Linked DNA regions of Homo sapiens: region 2 is linked to region 1. The links come from fine-mapping of genetic effects on gene expression. Tissue or cell type: tibial artery. Region 1 holds a variant in brackets; the other region holds the start of a gene. All regions are shown on one strand. Distances are between the middles of the regions.

Region 1 (8,000 bases):
AGCTGTCATTTAAAGTTAAGAGTATATTGGCCAGGCACATTGGTCCATGCCTGGAATCCCAGCACTTTGGGAGGCTGAGGCGGGCTGATCACTTGAGGTCGGGGATTCAAAATCAGCTTGGCTAACATGAGGAAACCCCATCTCTACTAAAAATACAAAAATTAGCCAGGCATGATGGCAGGTGCCTGTAATCCTAGCTACTCGGGAGGCTGAGAAATGAGAATCGCGTGAACTGGGGGTGTGGAGATTTCGGTGAGCCGAGATCGTGCCACTGCACCCCAGCCTGGGCAACAGAACGCGACTTTGTCTCAAAAAAAAAAAAGAAAAAAAAAATATAATGTTAGGACTTCTGGGAAACTGCAGTCCATTGAGGCTCCAAATAAACAACTCAGAATCTCCTCACACAACATGAAACTACTTCACGTCTAGGAAGTGTTCTATCAGAGCGCCACCCTCCTTATTGTTTGAAGGCAGAATGCCGCAACTATAGGATACCTGAGTGAGAGGGAGTACCCCACACCTGCCCCTCTGTGGGAAACAAAGGCGACTGAGGAAACTTTCAAGAAAGACCGAGGAAGAACATTTGTGAAGGGGCCTGAAGGCGAGTTGACATGATCACCAGAAAGATTAAATTTCACTGAAAATCTGAAATGACTTTGGTTTGGAAAAGTAATGGTCAGAGCAGACCATAAACCACAGATTAGGGATTTCAAAATAAGCACATCTTCGGGAAGGGCCAGATGACATGAAAAGTTACAGGCAGGGATTTTTAAAAGACAGATGCATTTATAGACTTATAGAAATCTATATACGTGTGTGTGTGTGTATGTGTGTGTTTATAGAGATAGACTTATTTAAAGGGGTGAGCTGATTTAAAAGGACAGGCGAGATTTAAAGGAACAATCTTCCAGACATCTTCTGTGGGAAGAAAAGCCCAAAAGGAAGGAAGAAGGGCCCTTTGACCTTTGGGTGGTGAAAGGAAAAAGAAGAAAAAGGAAAATATGTCCTGCAAGATAAGACGGAAGCACAAAATCGAAAGACAAGAGTATGATGAAAATATTTTGTTACGGTTTACTAAAAAGTGCGTCATCACTTGTTTCTTCCCTAGCCATAGATTTCTAGTGTTAAAACAGAAATTAAACATCAATTAGATTTTTACTTTACTGAGTAACTGAGTGTGGTAACATAACTATTCTTGTTATTCCTCAGTGAAATGTTTCTGGATTTTTTTTTTTCTTTTACCTTAACAGGAAAAAGTAATAAACTTTTCTTAGGCTCCTTAGAAACCTTAGAAACAGTCCATTCCCTTTGGTCCACGTCAGCAGTTCAAAGAATGGTCGAGGCTCCTGGAGGTCCTCTGATAACCATTTTGGAGAATCTGCAAGACCCTCTCTTTCCCGACTATGTGTCTGCAAGGCTGGATTTTCTTCATATGCTTCAGCCAAAAAACAACATGTCACCAACAGATGAATGTAGAAACAAATATGAGAACCCAGCTGTCTTCTATTAAAACAGATAATAGAATCACAAAAATATAAAACAGTGCCACTCTTCTCACTTTTTTTGTTTTAGAAAATAGTTATTTTTCATAAAGAGTATGTTGTTTTTATTAACATAATGGGTTTATTACTGTAATCCACTGTGCCAGACCATATGTGTTAATTTTATAATAAAAAAAGCCCTTAAATTGTATCTGCAATATTTCAGAAAAATGTTGCATGATGTCTTGCTTTCTGGTAGGGAAATAGTAACCAGTTGTCACCGTTCCCAAGACTTGGGACAGTGGAGTTCATTTTTATGACAGTTAGTGCTTGAGAATGCAGCTTGTGGCCACTAACATGGGAGACATACTCAAGAAGGCTTTATTCTCATGCTTTATATCTTTCTTTTACTGTTCTAAGGAGAATGAGGAGGCAGTAAATAGTGCTTTCTTGGTCTATTTTATATCGGTTACAGACTAGAAGCAGCCAAAGATGATTATCGAATACGTTGTGAAGAGTTAGAAAAGGAGATCTCTGAACTTCGGCAACAGAATGATGAACTGACCACTTTGGCAGATGAAGCTCAGTCTCTGAAAGATGAGATCGACGTGCTGAGGTAAAAACCTCACCTTCACCGCCCAGCACAGTTTGGCTCTGGTGTTAGAAACTCTAGGGTTTCTGAGGATCTAGCAAACTTAAGAGCCAGGCTACCTGGGCTGGGATCCCGGGTCTACTGCTTATGCAACCTCTGTATGGCTGTTTTCTCATCTGCAAAATGGAAACAATACACATGCCTACCTCAGGTTTATATGAGGAGTTGAGTGAATTTATATTTGTAAACACTTGCAACAGTGTCTGGCAATTAAGCGATACACAAGTGTTTGTAAAATAGAAATTGTGACCATCACTTCTTACTTGTACAGCTCTGGAGCTGTTCTTCCGCCACGCCCGCAAGGCCTCATTTTCTTGCTGGGCCTTGTTATTACCCCTTCAGTTCTCTCATGAGGTGCCTCACTCCCTGTCACCTCATTTTTTCACCCCTCTGCTTGTACAGTCTCCTATCCTCTGTTGATTATCTCAACCATCTACATTTTCCACTTTTGCTCTTTGAATACTGAGAACAGGGGAAATGCATAATTGATAGTTTTGTGCTCCTGCCAATTGGTGGCTTCCTTCTGAGCTGGGTTCTTCCCAATGGCCCGCCCTCCCCTTGCTCATTGTCTCACTCATAGCCATTCTGATTCCTCAGGATTCTACTCCCCGGCTGCCCTCCACACACACCTCCCATGACTTAGTCTCAATAGATGACCTTGTCTCCTATAGCAGCGAAGAAAGAGGCCGTGAACTGCTGAACTCTCCATGTCTTTTGTCTCCAAAACCTCTAAACTTCCCTGGGTTCCCACCCACCCTTTCTTTAGTGAGTGTAGACCTGTTATTCTTCCTCCTGTTCAGGGCTAATTCCTTCTTCAGTGTTCTGGACCTCTACCTTTCTGGCCTACGCGGGGACTGTGTTACATCAATCCTCATTTCTTTTGCCTTTTGAATCTCTCTCCTTCATACACATGCACACGCGCATTTAGGTCTCTTTAATCTTAAAAAGAGAGGGAGTTATTACTCTCTCCTTCCCACTAGAACCAAACTTAGATTACATAAGGTAAAATTGACATTCTCTCCTCAACCCCACTATCTGCCCACACTACCCCACTGAAGCTGCTATTCTGGTGGTCACTGATAATTGCCAAATTATTCGGACACTGTTAAACTTACTTTTCTTTTGTGCCACATGTGACTCTGCTGGCTGCCCTCTCCTGCTTGGTTTCCTTAAATTATTATTCTCCATTAAACATTTAGTTGTAACTTAGGTCATATTTGTTAACCTGTGCAGAAAATTAACCTGGAATCACTTTTGTCTTATTTCATTAGATGTGTGTTTCCTGGCAATCCTTCTTAACACTGAAACAACTTTACAAGTGTGGATGTGTTTCTGATTTTTTTAATTTCCCATCTAATTCTAGACATTCTTCTGATAAAGTATCTAAACTAGAAGGTCAAGTAGAATCTTATAAAAAGAAGCTAGAAGACCTTGGTGATTTAAGGCGGCAGGTTAAACTCTTAGAAGAGAAGAATACCATGTATATGCAGAATACTGTCAGTCTAGAGGAAGAGTTAAGAAAGGCCAACGCAGCGCGAAGTCAACTTGAAACCTACAAGAGACAGGTAAAAGAAACACAGCATCTTGATGATGGTTTCAGGCAAGCTCTCAGTTATGACATGTAGCTTACCAAAATTACTAATTTGTTTTCATGGTATTCTGTTTTTTACCTTTTCTTTATTGTATT[G/T]ATTCATTTAGGAGACTGAGTCTCACTCTGTCACCCAGCCTGGAGTGCAGTGGCATGATCTCAGCTCACTGCAACCTCCACCTCCCAGGTTCAAGCTATTCTTCTGCCCCAGCCTCCTGAGTAGCTGGAACTACAGACGCATGCTGCCACACCTGGCTAATTTTTTGTATTTTGGTAAAGACAGGGTTTCACTGTGTTGCCCAGGCTGGTCTTGTACTCCTGAGCTCAAGTGATCCACCAGCCTCAGCCTTCCAAAGTGCTAGGATTACAAGCGTGAGCCACTGTGAGCCACCATGCCTGGCCTATTGTATTTATTTATATTTATCTAATATTTAAAGAGCTTTAAACTCTCCATAGCAGGTACTTTTATTTTATTTACTTATTTTTATTTAGTTAGTTATTTATTAGGTAATACTTAAGAAATATACAAATGTAAAAGCATAGTTCAGTAAATATTCATGCTTGAATAAAACATGCTCTCCCCCTCCTCGTTACAGGCAGCCTCCATGCTGCGGCTTTCATTCCCATTCGTCTCTCTATACTTTTGCTACATATATATATTTATCCCTAAAAATTTATAGCACTTTGACATGTTCCAGAACTTTATATAAATGATACAGTGAAAGCACTCTTTGTAATTTTTTTTTCTTTTGCTCAGTGAGACTTGTTTATCATGATAGGTATAGCTTTATAACATTCATTTCTGCTGCTCTCTCAGTTAGTCTCTGTACCAAAATTTATCTATTTTCCTGTTAAGAGACCTACAGGATGTTTCAGCTTTTTTTTCTATGTTAAAAGAAATGCCATATAAATAGTATTGTACAGGTCCTCTACTATATATGTGTGAAGGTTTTACAACTTGATGGACTTTCTGTCTAAGAGTATCTTCAATGTAGTTAGATATTAGCAGATTGTTCCTTAAAGTGATTGTGCTACCAACAAGCAGTTTATATTCCTGTTGCTTCACATCATCACCAGCACACAGTATTGGCAAACTAAATTTTGCTGGCCTGGCACAGTGTCTCACGCCTGTAATCTCAACACTTTGGGAGGCTGAGGCAGGAGAGTGGCTTGAGCCCAGGAGTTCCAAACCAACCTGGGAAACATAGCAAGACCCCATCTCTAAAAATAACTTTAAGTTAGCTGGGCATGGTGGCATGAACCTGTGGTCCCAGCTATTTGGGAGGATGAGGTTGAAGAATCGCTTGAGCCTGGGCCTCAGAGGCTACAGTGAGCTATGATTGCACCACTGCATTCCAGCTTTGCTTTTGTGCCGCATGTGACTCTGCTGGCAACATGAGACATGTAAGACCTTGTCTTGAGAAAAGAAAAATAAGTAAAATTTGCCAATTAGATGGGTATAAAATGGTGTCTCCTTTTAATTATACTTCATGTTACCCTGATTACAAATATATTTACTGACCATATTTCTTTTGTAAATTTCCTATTTTTATCTTTTACCCACTTAAAAAATTGAATCATTTCTTTTACTGATTTCTAAAGGTTGTTTATATGTTCTAGATGTTCTTTATCACTTGCACATATTTTTACTTAATCTCCTATGGATCTATGACTTGTCCTTTTACTTTTTTGAGGTTGATAATTTCAGCATAATGAACTTAAAGTACTTTTATGATTTGTACTTTTTATATTTTAAGAAATTATTTCCTATATAAGGTTATAGTCTAATCTTCTCTATTTTCTTTACAAAGATTTAAAGTTTGTTTTGCACATTTAGGTATTTAATCCACTTGGAATTAATTTTTGTGTAGGGTGTGAAGTAGGGATCCCTTTGAGACTCTTTTTGTCTGTGTGGATAACCAGTCAGCCTACCACCATTTATTTAATAGTCCTTTCTTCCACAATGACCTGCAATTCTACCTTGTATATCTAAAATATCCATGTTGTATATGGGTTTATTTCTGGACACTTTCTTCTGTTCCCTTGGTATATTTATCTCTTCCTACACCAATATCACACTCATGTTTTACAAATTTTTAGCAATTTTGATAGGTGGTAGTGCAGACTCTCATACTTTGTCCTTTTTCAAAAGTGTCTGTTCTCAGCCCTTTGCTTTCCCTTTAAACTCCAAACTCTTGGGAATTGGAATTACATTGACTGTCGATCAATTTGGGGAGAGCTGTTTCTGTCTGAACATGATACCTTTCCGTGGTCTTCCATGTCTTTGGGTTAAGTTTATTAATGTTCTTCTAAAGATTTTGTGCATATTTCATTGTAGTTACTGTTGGGTACTTTTGTGTTTGGGGTTGCTTTTTAAATGCAGTTAGATAGATTCCATTTTCACTTTATTGCTAATTTATATGAATGAAATTGACTTTTATATGTTGATTCTGCAACCTTGCCAAATTCTCATATTACTTCTGATAATGTCTGTAGATTCTCTTGTCAGAAGGGATATAGTAAAGAAATAAAAGGAATTTGGGTCTTTTTTTTTTTTTTTTTTTTTCTGAGACAGGGTTTCACTCTGTCATCCAGGCTAGAGTGCAGTGGTGCAGTCATGGCTCACTGCAGCCTCGACCCCCCAGGCTCAGGTGATCCTTCCATCTCAGCCTGCCAAATAGCTAGGACCACAAGTGTGTGCCGCCACACTCAGCTAATTTTGTAATTTTTGTAGAATTGGGGTTTCTCCATGTTGCCCAGGCCGGTCTCAAATACCTGGGCTCAAGACATCCTCCTGCCTCGGCCTCCCAAAGTGCTGGGATTATAGGTGTGAGCCGCTGCACCCAGCCCAATTTCTCCCTTTCTATTCCATATCCTTTTTTTTCTTCTTAATCAGCATAACTGGACTTCAGTACAACTTGGAGTAAAAATAATGGTGGGAAAGCATTCCTTGTTGATTACATACAGAATGTTTTATTTTGCCAGTATATTACAAAGATTGCTATATGTTGTGTGTTTTTTGTTTTTGTTTTTGTTTTCTGGAGACAGAGTCAGAGTCTCGCTCTGTCGCTCAGGCTAGAGTGCAGTGGTGCGATCTCAGCTTATCGCAACCTCCACCTCCCAGGTTCAAGCGATTCTCCTGCCTCAGCCTCCCGAGTAGCTGGGATTACAGGCACCTGCCACCATGCCTGGCTAATTTTTGTGTATTTTTAGTAGAGACAGGGTGTCACTATGTTGGCCAGGCTGGTCTTGAACTTCTGACTTCAGGTGATCCACCTGCCTTGGCCTCCCAAAGTGCTGGGATTACAGGCGTGAGCCACTGTGCCTGGCCACTTTATTTTTTAAATGATAATATTTCATCTACAAGCCTTCTTTGTGTGCTTTTTCAAATCTCCCTGGTTATTTTTGATGGTCTCTTACTCCTTTTTGTTTTTTATTTTATTAATTAATTTATTTATTTTGAGGCAGAGTCTGGCTCTGTGGCCCAGGTTGGAGTGCAGTGGTGCAATCTCAGCTCACTGCAACCTCCACCTCCCGGGTTCAAGCAATTCTCCTGCCACAGTCTCCCGAGTAGCTGGGATTACAGGAGTGCACCACCAAGCCCGGCTAAATTTTCATATTTTAGTGGATACAGGGTTTCACCATGTTGCCCCCAGGGTGATCTGGAACTTCTGAGCTCAGGCAATCTGCCCACCTCAGTCACCCAAAGTGCTAGGCTTACAGGTGTGAGCCGCCGTGCCTGGCCTCTTAACTCCTTTTAAAATTTAGATTTCCTCTTTACTTTTTTAAGTATGTATATTTTGTATCTGATAATTCCAATCTGAAATCCTTGGAGATCTTATTCTGTTATTTTTTGGTTGTTATTGCTGTTAATGTTTTCCATAGAGTCTTGTTCGTTGTGGCATTTTCTTTATGGCCTTTGTAATTTTGGATTTTGCTCTTTCATTAGCTCATCTTTACATTGGGGAATCCTGAGGCTCATGGGTTGAGGTTTTGTTTCTGTGGTCAATATGTGTGTTTGTTTATGGCAGATTTTCCACAGCATTACCAGCTAATACCCCTCTAATTGCTTGGCTTAGGTTTTCCCAGACAATGCAAGTAGTAAAAATTCAAACACAAGTCCATGTATTATTAACAGGCTGTCATTACAAACTTCCAAGTTACCCCTTTTTTCTTTCTTACTTTTTTTTTAAAGACAGGATCTCACTCTGTTTCCTAGGCTGGAGTGCAATGGTATGATCATAGCTCACTGCAATCTTGAACTCCTGGGCTCAAGTGA
Region 2 (8,142 bases), 170 kb after region 1:
TGTGTTTTTTTGTAAAAGGTTATAAGAAGGCATGGAAATGTAAATTTTTGCCTAGGGTTAAAGGATTGTTTTAAATTAGGATGAAGTTGCAGGTTCAAACAAGTGGTGGAAGCATTGTGGAAATTAATCTTGCAAAGGGGTTTTCTATGTGAACATATTGACTAAATTTCAAAGGGTATTATATGATTTTTCTGTAAATTGAGCATTGAAATAAAAGCACAACAAGGTATTCTTAAGGCACTGATCTGCTCTTCAGCAAAATTTGTAAGGGGTTATAAAAGATTTTTGCTTCTTTAAAATTTCTGAGTCATCATTTTGGCAAAATAAATAACTTATGGTAATCTGGAATTCTGTTTCATAACATCAAGTGCTTTAAACCTCGAACATATTTAACAGCCTTCCCAAATCAAACTTCAGTTTCAAAATTGTCTTTCCTGATGTTTGGCTTTTTGGACCGTTTGGAGTGCCCCTGAAATATCCAAGAAATAGGTAAACAGGATCATTTGACATGTTTAGGTACATGGGATTGCCAAAATGATGTTCAGTTTTCTTTAGGTTATATTTTTGTGAATAATGCTAATGTATGTTCCAAAATTATATGGGATTTCTAAAACTCTAATGTCTAAGTATATGCTATCAACCATAATTAAGGTTGTTAAGTTATTGTAAACCACAGAGATAGCCAAACTTCTTTGTCAATTGTGTTTCTAACTGCAACTAACCTGGACATTTGGCTAGTCACAGACAATTGTTGTCTTGTTTTAATCATTTTCAAAAGATGGTTTATAATAAGCAATAGGACTCTGGCAGGTACTCTCAAATACAGGTTTCTGATAACTTTGGAGATTGTCACATTGGAATAAAGGCAAATGTACAGGATTCATAAAGAGCTGAAGTGTTCACGAATATCAAGCAAAACAAGAACTAAATGGACTGAACTCAAAGCTGAAGCAAACTTTTTGACTTTTGCTGGGAATATTGTTGATCCTTGTTTTGTTTTTCAGAGTCAGGGAAACTTATTTTAAACTATTTATGGTCTTTAATAATTGACTGAGGTATACTCCTGTGGACAAGATTTGGAGCATGCTTGTTTCTCTTTGCCTGGTTCCTTTTTTTTTGTGGACAGACTGTTACTCTTTCGCCCAGGCTGGACTACAGTGGAGGGATCTTGGCCCACTGCAACCTCCGCTTCCCTGGCTCAAGCGATTCTCCTGCCACAGCCTCCTGAGTAGCTGGGACTACAGGCGCGGGCCACCATGCCCAGGTAGTTTTTGTATTTTTAGTAGAGATGGGGTTTCACTATGTTGTCCAGCCTGGTCTCGAACTCCTGACCTCAAGTGATCTGCCTGCCTTGGCCTTCCAAAGTATTGGGATTAGCTGTGAGCCACTGCGCCCGGCCTGGTTCCTCTAGAATCTGGAAACTATCTGTGAGTATTTTTAACTTGTGGCAATATAGTTGTCTGGATCGGTGTGATAGGAATCCATTTATCTTTTGTTAACAAGACGCAATTGGAAAAACTGGTTATTTTCCCGAGGCTTTCACTGGAAGGCTATGCTTCTGTTTAAAGAATCAATCTCGACTTGCAGGGCCAATAAAAGCCCAGTGGGGAAGTTGGCCTCATACTCTTGTCTACACAGTCCCTGTACAGGGTTCCTGACCTGTGGTCAGTAAAGAATGTCACTTGCTAACAGGTCCAGGAGCTCCAAGTTTATCCTGGGACCTTAAGAGGAGAGGATCACCCAACCCAAGGTGTATCATGGGAACTTAAGAGGAGAGGATTAGCCCAGTTCATGGCTGGGCTTGGCTTTATCTTATCTGAGATTCCTTGTGGAACAGAGTTCCATCAAAGCCAGTCCAAAAGGCCTTTGTAGAAATAATTATTCTTGCTGCACTTTATGTAAATAATCAGGCCAAGTATAAGACTGAAGTCTATTTTGCAAACAACTGAGTCCTATCATAATTTCTTTTCTTTTCTTTCTTTTCTTTTTTTTTTTTTTAACAAAAACGAGGCCTGGAGAAAAATTATGTTCCAAAACTTACCATAATTTGTCATTCAATTCTAAACTCAGTTGTTTTTAAATTTTTGCCTGCATTTTTAGACTGACCCTGCTTGTGAACCAACCAGCAATCTCCAGCTGCAGCTCAGAAAGAACAAGAGGGATGGGTAATGTAAAAAAATCTGGATTAGTATTCTAGTTATGAGCAATTATCCTGCAAATTCTGCTAGGCAATGGGAATAAATAGGGTGCCCATCATCCAGAGGTTTCCTTTTGGGAAAGTAAGACCAAGGGAGCTAACCAAAGCCAAGCACCATGCACCCAAATCCTACCAAACATAACTGTAGCCACCAGTTATCTGGGTGTGTCACAAGACATCCTTTTCTCTCCCTTGTTGGAGGACTCAGTTCCACAGTTTTTCCTTAGCATTTGGCTTACGAGAAGGAGTCCATGCAACCCCTCAACCCCTGAGCATAAGTGAGGTCTAGGGAACTCCAAGACTACTGACAGCAGGGGTGATAGGGCATTCATGGGTAGAGGAGATAATTCCCACCCTCTAGACCCCTGCTTCATGGATGCAAGCCATTTTGGCACCCATGGTAGCACTTTCGAAGGTTGCATGGGGATGCAAGGATGGAAGAGGACGCTATTCCTTCTATCCCTCACGTACCCCAGGTATTTGCTAGGAAAAGAACCAGGGATGCCTGCTCCCCTCTTTCTATGTGGGTAGCCATTTATCTTCAGTCTGCACCACTTTCAAATGCATCTGGAACCCTTCGGATTCCTTTGAAAAAATGCCTTCTTTTTTCCTTTCTCCTCCTCGGTTCACAATGACAATCCTAATTGTGTCTCCATACTATGGGACACTCCCCTCAGATGCATTTTCCAAACTGGAAAGAGTTAATTTCCTAAACCTTAAACTGGCTGGCTTAGGATTGGTTTCAGGGGAAGGGAACCCAGAAGCCCAACATGCCAGCAAAAGGGTAAAGTTGTTTACCATTCGGACTTTTGGCCCCCTTCTCCGTGTACAAATTGGTAAAAAGCCTCAGGATTTTTGAGCTGTCCTTATCCCTCCCCTTGTTTCTTTTCTTTTCTTTTTTTTTTTGAGACAGGGTCTCACTCTGTCGCCCAGGCTGGAGTGCAGTGATGTGGTCTTGGCTCACTGCAACCTCCGTTCAAACGATTCTCCTGCCTCAACCTCCTAAGTAGCTGGGAGTACAGGCAGGCACCACCACTGCTGGCTAATTTTTGTATTTTTAGTAGAGACAGGGTTTCACCATGTTGGCCAGGCTGGTCTTGAACTCCTGACCTGCCAGGCTGGAGTGCAGTGGCATAATCTTGGCTCACTGCAAACTCTGCCTCCCGGATTCAAGTGATTCTCCTGCCTCAGCCTCCCAAGTAGCTGGGACTACAGGTACTTGCCATGACGCCCGGCTAATTTTTTGTATTTTTAGTAGTGACAGGGTTTCACCATGTTGGCCAGGATGGTCTCGATTTCTTGACCTCGTGATCCACCTGCCTTGGCCTCCCAAAGTGCTGGGATTACAGGCGTGAGCCACTGTGCCCGGCCATATGTGTTTAATAACCCAGTTTGTCTCTTCTTGCCTTCAGGACATCAAACGGTCATGCTACTGGAAGCTCGGACCATGGCCCCTTCTGCTGGGCACCCTTAGATAGGCCTCTGAGGGAGATCTGATTGCCATTTTCCCGAAACAGTGCCCCCTATCAGCAGGAAGCAGTTAAGATCTGTCTTTGTCCCTATTCTTATCCTAGTGGCAGTTAGATAGACTTCTTTAGAGCGAGGAATGAGCCAGATGGGAAGGGTTCCCTGGTAAAACTCCAACTGGCCTGTGCACTGCTCTGGGGTGGAGCCACAGAAGTTCGCTCCTCAGTTTGCAGCTGGGAGGAGCCTGGCCCTCCTCTTCCTCGGGAGAACCTGGGATTTAATCTGTGAGGTGGGAAGCCTACAACTAGGAGAACTCTGGCTCTGCTGAGTCCCTGTTCCCCTTTTTCTTCCTTTACACCCAATAAAACCCTGCCTTACCCTTCAAATTGTCTGCGAGCCTAATCTTTCCTGGCGTGTGACAAGGACCTCCACCGTCTTTAGCTGAACTAAGGAAAAGTCCCGCAACATTTTCATGTGTGCCTTTGTATTTTTATTACATATATGGATGTCCCTAAACAACATACATTATTGTTTTGCTTTATATATTAAAAAGGCATTCTGCAATTTGCATTTTCCCCAGCCTTGTGTTTTGAGATTTATCCATGTGGATGCGGGAAGCTGTAGAGCACTTCCCCTGCTGTGGGGCAGTTTGTTTTCTCGCTGGCGGACATTCAGCTTGTTGACAAGGTTTTGCAATTACAAGCACCTCTGCTATAGGTATTACTGTACCTGTCCCTTATACCTGCGATAGTGTCTCCCGGCATACAGCCAAGAATGGGTGTGCACACTCCTCGACCTGCTCCCTTCCACTTCGTCAGCCTGGCCGGGGGCTCTTTCAAGAGGTGGGGCCGCTTGGTGGCTTCTAAGTCGTGCCTCTCCCTCTGGGTAATAAACGCCTTGGGGGCAGGGACTTTGCAGTCTTGCTTATTGAGGCGTTTTCCAAAACAGGGACCGAGGGCTCTAACACCCGTGCGGAGGGTGGCCGGCGGGGGCGGGAGTTTGGCAGAATGCGGCTGGAGAAGGTGGGGCGAGGGAAGAAGGCTCCTGGCCTGCAGGGGCCTCTCTTCCGGCTGTTTTTCCTCCCGAAGACAAACACTCCCAACGCAGGGGCGCAGAGCCTCGGCTTCTTTCCTGGCCAGCTCCCTCAAGGCAGGGCCTAGCATGGCCCGGCCCAGCCCCTAGGTTCCCCCGCCCGCGGCTCCCGGGCGCCTCCGCCTCCCGCGGTGACTCAGGCGGCGGTGACGGCAGCGGAGGGGGCGATGACGGGCGCGCGGGCGTCCGCGGCGGAGCAGCGCAGGGCGGGGCGCAGCGGGCAGGCAAGGGCGGCCGAGCGGGCGGCGGGCATGAGCGGGGCGGGCAGGGCGCTGGCCGCGCTGCTGCTGGCCGCGTCCGTGCTGAGCGCCGCGCTGCTGGCCCCCGGCGGCTCTTCGGGGCGCGATGCCCAGGCCGCGCCGCCACGAGGTGAGTGCACACCTCCTACCGCCGCCCGGCCGGCTACGAGCGCAGCGTCTCCTCTCCGCGGCGCCGCCCCTATCTCCGTGCGCGGCGCCGAGCGCTAGGCCGGGCCGGAACCGCCCCCGTGGCCTGGGCTGTTGCTGCGACTTCGCGGTCCCGCGCCCCAGACCGGAGGCCGGACTTCGGGGTGCTGCGGCCGGGCCCCGCGGAGGCGGGGGAGGGGGCGGTTCGGACCGCGGCGGAGTGGAACCTGGGCGCCCAGGCGGCGCCCACCCCAGCGGAGCCTGCGTCCTGGCGCCTTCCGTCTAAACAGAGGCCGCGGATCGGGACGCCGGGACCCCACAAACTGGCAGCCAGGAGGCGGGCCAGCCGAGGATCGGGGGGGCTCGGACTCCCCCTGCACCCAGTCCACTGTTCGGAGGGACTTAGAGCAGGGTCCCTTCCCTGAGGGCCTCGCCCCCGAGGACGTGGCGCCGGAGCCGTGCGACCCATTGGCTTCAGCGGGTGGGAAGCCTGGGGCCGGGACGCGCGTTCGCCCCGCGCTGGGGTTGAACCTGCGTGGATGTGCGGCGGGTGAGGAACCGCGGAGAAGGCGGTGGGGGCGCGGCCTGCAGCCCGGTCCCGGGCGAGCCCTCCGCGCGTCTCCCCTCGGCGCGTTTTCCCTCCAGGGTGACTGGGAAGCCGCCGCCGCCGCCGCCGCCGCCTGGGAGGGGCCGGGCTGGGCGCTTTTGCCCCGGGCCCCGGACCCCGGGCGTTTGTCCGGTGCGCTGGCTTAAGAGGCGCTCAGCTCATACCGTGATTGCACAACTGGCTTGCTCTCCGAACTCGGTGGGGAAAACGGTGACAAATACAGATTCCAGGTCTCCATCTAGACCCCTGCACCGGGGAGCCCCAGGCCCTAGGTCCTTCGCACACGCCCCTCCCAGAGGGGTCGGGCAAGCATCGCAAACCCCTTTGGGTAGGAGGGACGGTGGGAGTCACCTGTCTTTCCCCTCTCGCGCCCTTTTCTTGGTCAGAATACGAAGTTTTAGTGTCTGTGTATGGAGTTCAAACGACCCCTCCTCTCCAAGCAGAAGCTGGAGGAGAAAGGCGTTGTGAATTTTGGAAAAGCGGCTCAGAGGATTACATTTTGTGCGATCCTTGATCCACCCAACCTTCATCTCCTGCGCTCCCCTCCTTTAAAATTGCAAGGACCCCGGGGAGGTTATGTAATCTGCCTGATCACAATTTGTCAGGGACTGATCCCGCCGAACACTCTTTGCATTTTAGCGCCAGTATTAGCTTATCAAAGGGCACTTACTTTTAGAGAGAGGTGGTTTGTAAATAGTAATCACACGTAGTGAGGGGAAGCCGCGTTGGGACCGCAAGGCTTTCCCTGTCACCTGGAGCCCATGTTTGGGCCGCACAGCTTTCCTACTAAAAACGTCATCATCTTCCTTCTTTTTGAAAATTCAGCATTTGCTTGAAGAAAAAAAAAAGTAGACTATGTCTTTAAAAATATGCCCAGCAAAGATAACTCACGAGCAGAGAGCTAGACCAGAAATTAAATATTTGGAAAGGAAATAAAGGTGTAATACACAAGCAGCACATTTATCCCCGCACCATTGGAAGGTGACTTTATTTGGTAATTTGCCCACCAAGACGAGGTAGACCAGAGGAGAGAGAAGGAAATAATTGTTCTTTTGTCTGTAACGCTCTGGGGGTATTGCCCTGGAATTTCTTAGGTCAGCTGCTGTGTGGGAAGGTGACAGCTTTTTCTTGAAGCTGAACATCAAGCTCAGTTTCGAGGTCATATTTGATGACTTATTTGATGGCTTAGTAATTGGGTCCTTTGGTCGTGTCTGTAAGTGATACAGACTGTTATTATTATTTTTAAAAACCACATTCAAATAATGCAAAGTGAAAAAAAAAGGTGTCAAAATCCGCTGGCGTTACTCTGACAGTCTCTAGCTGTGGTTCCCTAGCTGTGGTCTTCACCCTCGGCTGCACACTCGAATCCCTTTGGGAGGTTCGTTGTTTTTTGTGGGAAATTAAAAAAATCATGCTGATTGGGCAGAGATTCTGATTTAATTGGTCTGGAATGGGGCCAGGGCATTGGTAACTTTTGTAGTTTTTTTAGAGCTTCCTCAGGTAATTTTGACATTCAATGAAGACTGAGCCCCTCTGCACATTCCCAAATAGCATAGTTAGTAACAATGACAATGAAGAGCTTTCAGCCTAAAATTCGTGTGGATAATCTAAGTATAAAACAAGTACCTTATTCCGCCCACCACCAAAGGCTTAGAGAAACATGAGTACACACAGTACTTATTCCATCTACGAAGGGATGATGATGTGTGGAGAAATTACGAAGGAAAAGCTCATGGCTTCATGGTCTCTTGGGTATGATCAAGTGTAGGAAAAAGTCTACAGAGAGTGACTAGAAATGTGAAAATGGAAGCCATTAAAACTGAAGAAGGGAAATGAAAAAGAACTATTTTAAAACGATGACAAATTGACAAAGGATTTAATATTTTTGTCTTTAATGTAGAGAAGTTATGCAAATACCTCAGAAGGTGTCAGGGATTAAATAAAGGTGGTTAAATAAATAAATGATTCAGGAATTAATATGAAAGTCACATACTGATGGTAAACATTTGGAAAACATGTTCAAACTTGTTAATCACAAATTCAAAACTAAAATAATTAGGACGTGCCATTTTCTATCCACCAGGCTAACATATGAGGGAAACATGGAAAGGCTAATCTGGCTGGGCTTATAGGGAGGGATCTGTTGAGGCTCAGGAGACTGGTTAGCCGTTATGTGCACAGTTAGACTGACCTCAGCTTAAATCCTGGCTGCTAGTAGGTGACTTTGGGCAAGCTGCTTGACCTCTTCAGGCCTCAGATGCCTCATCCCAAAATGGAGACACCAGGAGCTATTTCTTTCTTTCTTTTTTTTTTTTTTGAGACAGAGTCTCGCTCTGTCGCCCAGGCTGGAGTGCAGTGGTGCGAACTCAGCTCACTGCAAGCTCCGCCTCCTG

Direction of the effects. Alleles are on the strand shown, and positions count from the first base shown. SD is a standard deviation of normalised expression in the study named.
As copies of T replace G in region 1, the expression in tibial artery of the gene that starts at base 4,975 in region 2 goes up (small effect, 0.28 SD a copy in GTEx).

The links. PIP is the estimated chance that this variant, and not a neighbour inherited with it, causes the effect.
Region 2: it holds the start of HGSNAT, and the variant in region 1 is fine-mapped to the expression of HGSNAT in tibial artery (GTEx, PIP 0.98). The same link has a PIP of 0.9 or more in thyroid.

What each region holds. Positions count from the first base shown.
Region 1 is chr8:42,964,517-42,972,516 of GRCh38, forward strand. It overlaps HOOK3 (hook microtubule tethering protein 3), which reads left to right. Exons shown (of 22, transcript NM_032410.4): 10 at 1,957-2,097; 11 at 3,497-3,698. Among named protein-coding and RNA genes, the nearest start is that of HOOK3, 72 kb to the left of the region's middle. The variant G/T (reference allele first, on the strand shown) is at 3,821.
Region 2 is chr8:43,135,490-43,143,631 of GRCh38, forward strand. HGSNAT (heparan-alpha-glucosaminide N-acetyltransferase) reads left to right here and starts at 4,975. Exons shown (of 18, transcript NM_152419.3): 1 at 4,975-5,125. The coding sequence starts at 5,008. RefSeq lists an enhancer at 3,637-3,931 and silencers at 4,775-5,564, 5,575-5,954.